2 separate regions of the Homo sapiens genome follow, and region 1 is linked to region 2. The links come from fine-mapping of genetic effects on gene expression. Tissue or cell type: T cells. Region 2 holds a variant in brackets; the other region holds the start of a gene. All regions are shown on one strand. Distances are from middle to middle. Region 1 holds the start of TMEM45B (transmembrane protein 45B). Region 2 overlaps TMEM45B (transmembrane protein 45B).

Region 1 (4,387 bases), 39 kb after region 2:
AGTAAAAAGTTTTGCAATAGCAAGGACTTTGGCTAGGGGAGTGACTCTATGTGTGGTGAAACTGTCCTCACCCATTTTTCATTTGAGGAAAAGAGATAATCTTTTGATTACACCCAACACAGGTAACATCTGTACTTTGAACAGTTAAGTATAGCAGCTGATGTTTAACTGCAGGTAGGGGGGAGATGAGAAACAGAAATAACTGGTGCCAAATGTGAGATTCAATTACCTCGACCATCACAACCAACATCAACCAGAAGGGTGTGGGAGGAACTCATGGAATAAATGGGAACAGGTGTGGCCTGAGGATAAGTAAGTGGGGGCACTGTTTCCATCTTCATGAAGATGTGAGAGGAAATCAAAGCTCTTTAAAAAGAAGGAAATGGAATGCTTGGCTCCTGTAATATCAGAACAAATAATGCACAGCCAGAGGTCATGCCTCACCTTCTGCTTATCTCAGTCACCTCCACTTGTAAAATCAGTGGGCCATATTCAATAAAACCTTCATATCAGTTCCATATCTTTTCCCAGAAACCCCAGGAACAGAGGGAGCCAATATCCTTATTAAACCAAGAAGCTCACTGTCACAAAGAGCTAAGTCTGACGCCCCTGGGCCCCTACCTAACCACGTGTCCTGATTCTTTCCATAACTTCCCACTGCACAACATCCAGGTTATACTGAAGATATTACACATCTGGTTAAAAACAGTACACGTCTCTCATGAACAATAAGCCATCCTTTCTATTAAAATGAGTGTAAAATTGCAGGTAAAATGCTGTAGGCAGGCCTGTTTGGAAGGCTATGCGACCCTAGGAGACAAAAAGGTGCAGGAGGAGGAAAAGGGCAGACACCGCAGAAAGCGGTCGAAGAGAACGTGAAAGAAGTGGCCATTTCTAGCTGGGCGCGGTGGTTCACGCCTGTAATCCCAGCACTTTGGGAGGCTGAGGCGGGTGGATCATGAGGTCAGGAGATCGAGACCATCCTGGCTAACACGGTGAAACCCCGTCTCTACCAAAAAAAAAAAAAATACAAAAAATTAGCCGGGCGTGGTGGCGGGCGCCAGTAGTCCTAGCTACTCGGGAGGCTGAGGCAGGAGAATGGTGTGAACCCGGGAGGTGGAGCTTGCAGTGATCCGAGATTGCGCCACTGCACTCCAGCCTGGGCGACAGAGCGAGACTCCGTCTCAAAAAAAAAAAAAAAAAAAAAAAGAAGTGGCCATTTCTGCAACTTTTAGGAGAGCTACCTGCCCTCAAATTTTGAAAGGGTTTCTATTTCTTAAAGTGCTACGTTTCCCTGGCTGAAACTCACATCTTTCTTCCCTCTAGGGCTGGATCAAAGCTTCAGAGGTTGTTTCTCTGGCCCTAGACAGGGCCACCCCCGCAAATTTCTCCCCCACTGCGCCTGACATCCGCTTCCATCCATGGCTCCATTAACGGAAGCTAAGCACTGGCTCGGGGGACTTTATCCACCGCCCGGTGTTATTAGATTCCAGGCTTCCTGGCCTCAGGAAAGGATCTGGCTCGTGTATTTGTGTATCGCAGCTAACAAGGAAAGGCAGTCGGTACCAGTGCCCAGAGCTATGTGAGCTGTGACTGGTCACAGCCCAGGAGCCAGATGGCATCCCCGGGGGCGCGCGTCCCCGGACTCACCGGGCAGACGGAGGCCCGGGGCTTCACACCTTCCCCTCACCGGGCAACGCGGCAGACCTGACTCGCGGGGGACTGAGCAATATTCGTTCCAGGGCCGCGGCCAGCCGGACAGAGGCACTCGGGGGCGGTGGGAGTAGTGTGCGCACCGGTTCCGCAGCCCGGAGGGGGCCCCAGCTGGGCTTCCGCGACACCAGGGCCCTCCATCCCCTCCCGTCCTCCCCTAGCGCAGCCTTCACCCCTGTCCCAGAGCCCCTCCCTGTCCGCGTCCCCTCCCCCGCAGGTCCCCTGCGAGTCGGAACCTCCTCTCCATCACAGCCCCGCTCCTTGGCGGGGCCCCCTCTCCCTTCGAGCCCTCCTCCAGGTTCGAGCCCCCTGCGGGTACGGACGTCTGACCTGTGCCCAGCGCCTCGCAGCCGTCTGCAGCCCGCGCCGCGCGCCAAGTGCGTCCGCCCAGAAGCAGGTGCAGCTCCAGGCCCGCCCCGCCCCGCTGCGCCCCGCCCCGCTCCACTCCGCCAGGCCTGGCAGCCGCCAGCCCCTTTCCACCCTTGACCGCCCTTCCCGGTCCCGGCCAGCGTGCGGGGCATCTGTCGTCAGGTCCGCACTTCCTCCAGGCCTTTGACTTTCCCGTGGAGATGTCTCTGGCCTCAGGAACTCCCTAAGCTGTGTGCTTCAGGAGAGGCTGGTTCCTGAGTCACCCAAGAGGACTGCAACCAACCTGGACCTCCTGAGATGCAAAGAGATCGCAGGGCCTGGGAGGCGGCGAGGACCCTGAGAACAGGCTGTGGCTCCGAAGAGTGTTTGTTACCAAGCCAGGCAACCACTGCGAACACACCGCAGAAACAGCCACGGATCACCGTCCAGCAAAGGAAGAAGGTGCCAACGGTCCATCAGGGACCACAACCCAGTTTTTTTAGTTTAAGTTTGGTGGCTAAGTTTGAGTGTCACATAGTTCATTCATTCCTTCATTCATTCAACAAATCTGCCATGTTCCCATCTGATAACAGATCTGACAGGTGGGCACTGTTCTAGGTGCTGGCGATAGAGCTAAGAAGGAAACAAAGTTCCTGTCCCGGAGAAGGGGGCTACCTGCTGAGGAGAGCATGACTTTCTTTGTGGTATTGTGCTGTGGCAGCAGGGTCCTCTTCTGTAAGCTACTGAGAGGTGAAACCCGCTGGGCTTCTGGGTCGGATGGGGACTTGGAGAACTTTTCTGTCTAGCTAAAGGATTGTAAAAGCATCAATCTGCACTCTGTGTCTAGCTAAAGGTTTGTAAACACACCAATCAGCACTCTGTAAAAATGCACCAATCAGTGCTCTGTGTCCAGCTAATTGGTGGGGACTTGGAGAACTTTTCTCTCTAGCCAAAGGATTGTAAATGCACCAATCAATGCTCTATGTCTAGCTAAAGGTTTGTAAACACATCAATCAGCACTCTGTAAAAACGGACCAATCAGCACTCTGTAAAATGGACCAATCAGCACTCTGTAAAATGGACCAATCAGCGCTCTGTAAAATGGACCAATCAGGAGGATGTGGGCAGGACCAATCAGGAGGATGTGGGCGGGGCCAATGAGGGAATAAAAGCTGGCCATCCGAGCCAGCGGCAGCTGCGTTTGGGTCCCCTTCGATGGTGTTGGGGTTTTGTTGTTTCGCTCTTTGCAATAAATTTTGCTGTTGCTCACCTTTTAGGTCCACACTACCTTTATGAGCTTTAACACTCACAGTGAAGGTCTGCAGGTTCACTCCTGTAAACCAGCGAGACCAGGAAGCCACCACAAGAAACAACTCTGGAGCCGCCACCTTTAAGAGCCATAACACTCACTGTGAAGGTCTGTGGCTTCACTCCTGAAGTCAGCGACACCACGAACCCACAGGGAGGAGCAAACAACTCCAGACGCACCACTTTTAAGAGGTGTAACACTCCCTGCGAAGGTCTGTGGCTTCACTCCTGAGGTCGGCGAAACTACGAACCCGCTGGGAGGAAGGAACAACGCGGATGCGCCACCTTTAAGAGCTGTAACACTCCCTGCGAAGGTCCGCGGCCTCACTCATCAAGTCGTGCATAGACCACGAACTCTCTAGAAAGAAAAAACTTCGGACACACCTGAACATTTGAAGGAACAAACTCCGGACACACCATGTTTAAGAACTATAATGCCGTGAAGGTCCGCGGCAGGACCGGGACCAGGAACTCTTCAGAGGGAACCAATTCCGGATACACAGCTTCGTGGAATGGTTCTGCACTGTGTGTGTGTGTGTTTCCCGTCAACCCTGTGCACACTATTAGAAGAACACAAGCGTTAAGGCTCCCTCTCAGTCCTGCCGGTAAGAATCCAGGGCTGATGCACCTATTAAAAGCTTCTCAGGAGGCCTGGGGAAGTGGGGGTTGAGAACCACGGGTCTAGATCTCTAAGATGCCTGGCAGCTTATTCCACTGTTGAGGGCACTGGCAATCAGGAAGGGCTTCATGGAAGAGATGTTTGCATTTGGGTTTTAAAGCAGGGCCACAGCTAGATATTAGCAGTGCAGAAGGACACGGGATCCGACGGGCAGCCTGTTGACCAAATGGCTCCGTTTTTATAAAGTCAAAGAACATCACTGTGAAGGATAAGGCATTAACTGGAGCAGACCTTTCCCTGGTAAAACAGAGCGAATGGGATCTGGTGGGAGGTGGTAATGGCCAAGAGGTAGTGCCGTCAGTGAAAAGCGTCATGGAGTCGTGCACCTTACAGGGAGGA
Region 2 (4,343 bases):
TTGGTCGTCCTGAGAAGCAATCTAGCCGTTCTCCTGTGGCCACCGAAGTGGCCCATGTGTGACCACCGCCTCATAGTTCCCACACTTCGTTAGCATAGAAAGGCCTTTTCACATAGAAAAATGGCTCTGGCCAGGTATGGTGGCTTACGTCTGTAATACCAGCACTTCGGGAGGCTGAGGCAGGCGGTTTACAAGGTTAGGAGTTCAAGACCAGCCTGACCAACATAGTGAAACCCTGTTTCTACTAAAAATACAAAAAATGAGCTGGGCATGGTGGTGGGCACCTATAATCCTAGCTAACTGGGAGGCTGAGGCAGGAGAATTGCTTGAACCTGGGAGGCGGAGGTTGCAGTGAGCCGAGATCATGACACTGCACACCAGCCCGGGCCACAGTGCGAGACTGTCTTAAAAAAAAAAAAAAAGCCGGGCGCGGTGGCTCATGCCTGTAATCCTAGCACTTTGGGAGGCTGAGGTGGGTGGATAATGAGGTCAGGAGATTGAAACCATCCTGGCTAACACGGTGAAACCCCATCTCTACTAAAAATACAAAAAATTAGCCAGGCGTGGTGGCGGGCGCCTGTAGTCCCAGCTACTTGGGAGGTTGAGGCAGGAGAATGGCGTGAACCTGGGAGGTGGAGCTTGCAGTGAGCCAAGATTGCGCCACTGCACTCCAGCCTGGGCGACAAAGCGAGACTCTGTCTCAGAAAAAAAAAAAAAAAAAAAAGGCTTCAGCTTAATTTTGGTTGTATAGGCTTACTTAAAAACACAAGTCCAGGTGCAGTGGCTCACGCCTATAATCCCAGCTCTTTGGGAGGCTGAGGCAGGCGGATCACTCGAGTTCAGGAGTTCGAGACCAGCCTGGCCAACATGGTGAAACCCTGTCTCTAAAAATACAAAAAAATTAGCCAGGTGTGGTGGCGGGCACCTGTAACCTGAGCTACTCAGGAGGCTGAGGCATGAGAATCGCTTGAACCTGGGAGATGGAGGTTGCAGTCAGCCAAGATTGCGCCACTGCATTCTAGCCTGGGTGACAGGGTGAGTCTCTCTCAAAACAAACAACAAAACAGAACTTCAGGGCCCACGTTTCCAGTGGACAGTTTAGCAAGCAGAGCCTGTGAAAGGCATCAGCCCATCCTCTGGGGAGGGCAGCTGAACGTCACCGTGCATGCTTTAAATTTTGGATTGCTAATGCATCCTCTGGATGTTAATGGATAAAACTAGGAGTCAAAGGGCGGGCATGGGGGGAAAAGGGTCATCTAAACCCCTTTGCATGGCATGTTAATGCTGCATTTTCAGACCCCATATTCTCGTCAGGGATTTCTCTGGGATGCGCTCGGTGGGGGCTTCTCCATCCAGACCAGCGAGGGGCCTGGGTGTGGAAAATCACCTGCCAGAACCAGGTTCCCTGAAGAATGATGAGACTGGTTCGGAAAAGTTCCAGCACAATGTGGTCCCGGAAGATCACCTCTAGGGAGATACTAACACACCCTCCGAACAGAGCATACAGCAGGAGTGAGTGGATGTGCTGGTCCAGCGGAGGCCGGTTGTGGACGTGGTAGTAGAAGAGGAAACCTGCCACAAACCAGATGGCAGCTGTCAGGGCTACGCTTGGCTTTCACCATCACCGAAGTTTCCTCCTACACCTGTCTCAGCTAGGTTCTTCAGCATTTAGGCAGTTAGTACATAACATTACAGGCAGCAAACAGATGCGAGTAAGTGTATTTCATGAGTATGTTAGGAGTATAAAGCAGCAAGGGATTGTATCTTAAAATCTCTATGGAACCCATGGTGGGGTCAGTATAGGATGGGCCGGCTGAAGCATGTTGCTGATTTGTAACAGACTGTGTGTGTATACTTGAAATTCAGTTTTGCCCTCAACCTTTTTCGACTCTTGCTGAGGTACAGAAGTGAGGTTGTTAGATGACAAAATGTATTTTCATACCCCAGTCAGTGTGAGTCATACTGGCAGCGCTCCCCTGGCAGTGGAGTGGGTCTCCTGAGGCTTGTGATGGAGGCAAGACGGTACCTCCCTGGGCAAAAGGTAGAGTGTGGTTTCGCTTAACCAAAGGGGTGTATCCCCTGCATGGTGGCATTCAACCAGCTGGGGCATTGTGTGTACCCGCATGTGTATGTGCGCACATACGTCCACACCGAGGAATATGCACGTGTGTGAGCAGGGGCTGCTGGC[G/A]GCAGTGGGAAGGCGAGGAGGACTCCTGCAGTGTTAGCCGGGGCTTTGGTAGCTGCCTTCAAGCCTCAAAGCTTTCATGAGCTACTTTAGGGAATATGTCACCTGGCCCATCCAGAGTAGAGCACTAGGTCCTATTCAGGTTTTGGCAGTCCAGAGATGTGGATTTTCTGGGGGAGGTTATTATATTTGCAACATTTCTGATATTTTGTACTCTGATCCTTCATAAATATGACTTGTCAGGCTCTCCTTCCTCTCCATCCGTTCCACAAAATTACCTTCCATGAATACTGCCACAGCCATAACCAGTCTGTCCACCCCCAAGGGAACGTGGCTGACCAGATAGGTGAGCATGTCAACAATTCCTGAGACTGCAAAGAATAGGTACATGGTGCTGTGCTGCCAATTCATTAACTTTATCCAGTGGTTCTCATGGTAGAGGTGCAGGTGGGGCCCATCCGGAACAAACTGCTCTGCCAGGATCCCTGCAGGGAAATGAGGATGGATGTTTTAGAGGGAAGAGTAGCTCTAAGACAAATAGGAGCAAGGAATAACCCAAAGGCATGAGCGAAGCGGAGATGGGGTGAGGTGAGGGTGGCCCGCGGGTCAGCAGAGCTACTTTGCTGCCTCAGGTGCAGCTGCTTCAGTATAAAGTAGGGTGTGTGCTGAGTCACCTGTGTAGACATCTTGCCATTGTTGTTCCTTTTAGGGGTTTGGGGTTGAGGGTAGAAGAATCAATGAACACAACCACACACACATAGATCCCCAGGAGGTTTGTCCAGGAGCAGAGATGAGCAAGACATCATCACTTAAGTCGGAGTGTGGCTGATAGAATAATCTCTGGGCTTCCCTGCCAAGTGAGCAGTGAAAGAAATCCCAGACAGAAACAATTAGGCTGAAAGCAGAATCTGAGCAGAGACACACTGGTAATGAAGATACCTGTACGTGCCAAGGGAGGGAAGCGGCTCCCAGGTGCGTGTCTGCAGGGCTGATTTTGAGTGCGTGTCCTTCCTGGGCACAGAGCCAGCTCTGCAAGCCCTGCGCCCCTCCCAGCTGTGTGTTTTAAAACACCGGGTAAACAAGGCAGAGGCCCCAGGATGTGGGCCAGAAAATGACGAAACTGCGACACAGGATAGCTCTTAGTTCTTATCCCTTCTACTTTTATCAGCTAATTTGGAAGGCAAAAGATTTGTCTTTATGCCTGGTACCCAAAGTGTTCTTGGGGAAGCCTAGAAGAAATCCTCCATGATGACATTTTGGACTCCGTTTCCCAGATACTTGTTTCTCAAGCCAGACCCTTTTTGAATTCCCACACACAGAGTCAGGAAGTTGTGGAAATGACCCAGGAAAAGTCCCAGTGACACTAGAATGGAAGCCCTGTGACAGCAGCGGCTGTGTGGTTCCCCAGTGTATCTCCTATGCCTGGAACAGTGACTTCCTGGCTTGTGGTAGGAGTGCCAGAGAGCTGTTGAATGAGTACCATTTTCACCCAGTCAAGGGGCCAAATATTGTAATTGTCCTAGCTTTATTTAGGCAAGGTTGATGCTGTCCTGATCCTTTAAGCCACAGGTCCCTGTCACTTCTCACGGGAGGCCTCTCTGATGCCTGAATGGTGAGTGGGGACATTCAGCAGGATGAGACCAACAAAGCCCTGTGAAGCTTTGCTTCCTCCAAGAGAAGCGATGTTGCTTCACTCTCTCCAAGAAGCCATAGGCCACTGATGACAAGTGGTAATTGTCAGTTGCAGATTAAGACCCCTCATTCCCCCCAGGTGGGGCTGGTCCTGAGGAAGAACACTTGTTACTGTCATCACTGCTTGTTCCTGGAGGGCCGCAGTGGAGCGGAGTGGATGCGAAGGAAACAGTGGGAGTGGGTGGATCTTGTTGGAATGGGGCAGAGTGAAGGAAAATTCCTCTTCAACAGCCCTCTGCTGCTTTTTCTCTCCCACTGGCTAATTTACGAATCTACATAAACTCTCTATAAGCGCTTGAGACTTGAGGATGAAGATAAGCCAGTGGGTTGGGTGTTAACTACTGTAAGGATCTGGAGGGAGAGACAATTGAGGAAAAAAGGTGATTTTTCTACTTTGTCACAACTAAGGTACGTGAGCCTAATCTATTTTGTTTTTTTCTCTTTTTATTTGTGTCATATCTTTTTC

The links.
Region 1: it holds the start of TMEM45B, and the variant in region 2 is fine-mapped to the expression of TMEM45B in T cells (TOPMed, PIP above 0.99).

What each region holds. Positions count from the first base shown.
Region 1 is chr11:129,813,555-129,817,941 of GRCh38, reverse strand. It overlaps TMEM45B (transmembrane protein 45B), which reads right to left and starts at 2,094. Exons shown (of 6, transcript NM_138788.5): 1 at 2,044-2,094. It overlaps LOC124902793 (a long non-coding RNA gene), which reads left to right and starts at 3,255. Exons shown (of 2, transcript XR_007062952.1): 1 at 3,255-3,974.
Region 2 is chr11:129,852,937-129,857,279 of GRCh38, reverse strand. TMEM45B (transmembrane protein 45B) reads right to left here. Exons shown (of 6, transcript NM_138788.5): 3 at 2,464-2,670; 4 at 1,388-1,572. Among named protein-coding and RNA genes, the nearest start is that of TMEM45B, 39 kb to the right of the region's middle. The variant G/A (reference allele first, on the strand shown) is at 2,189.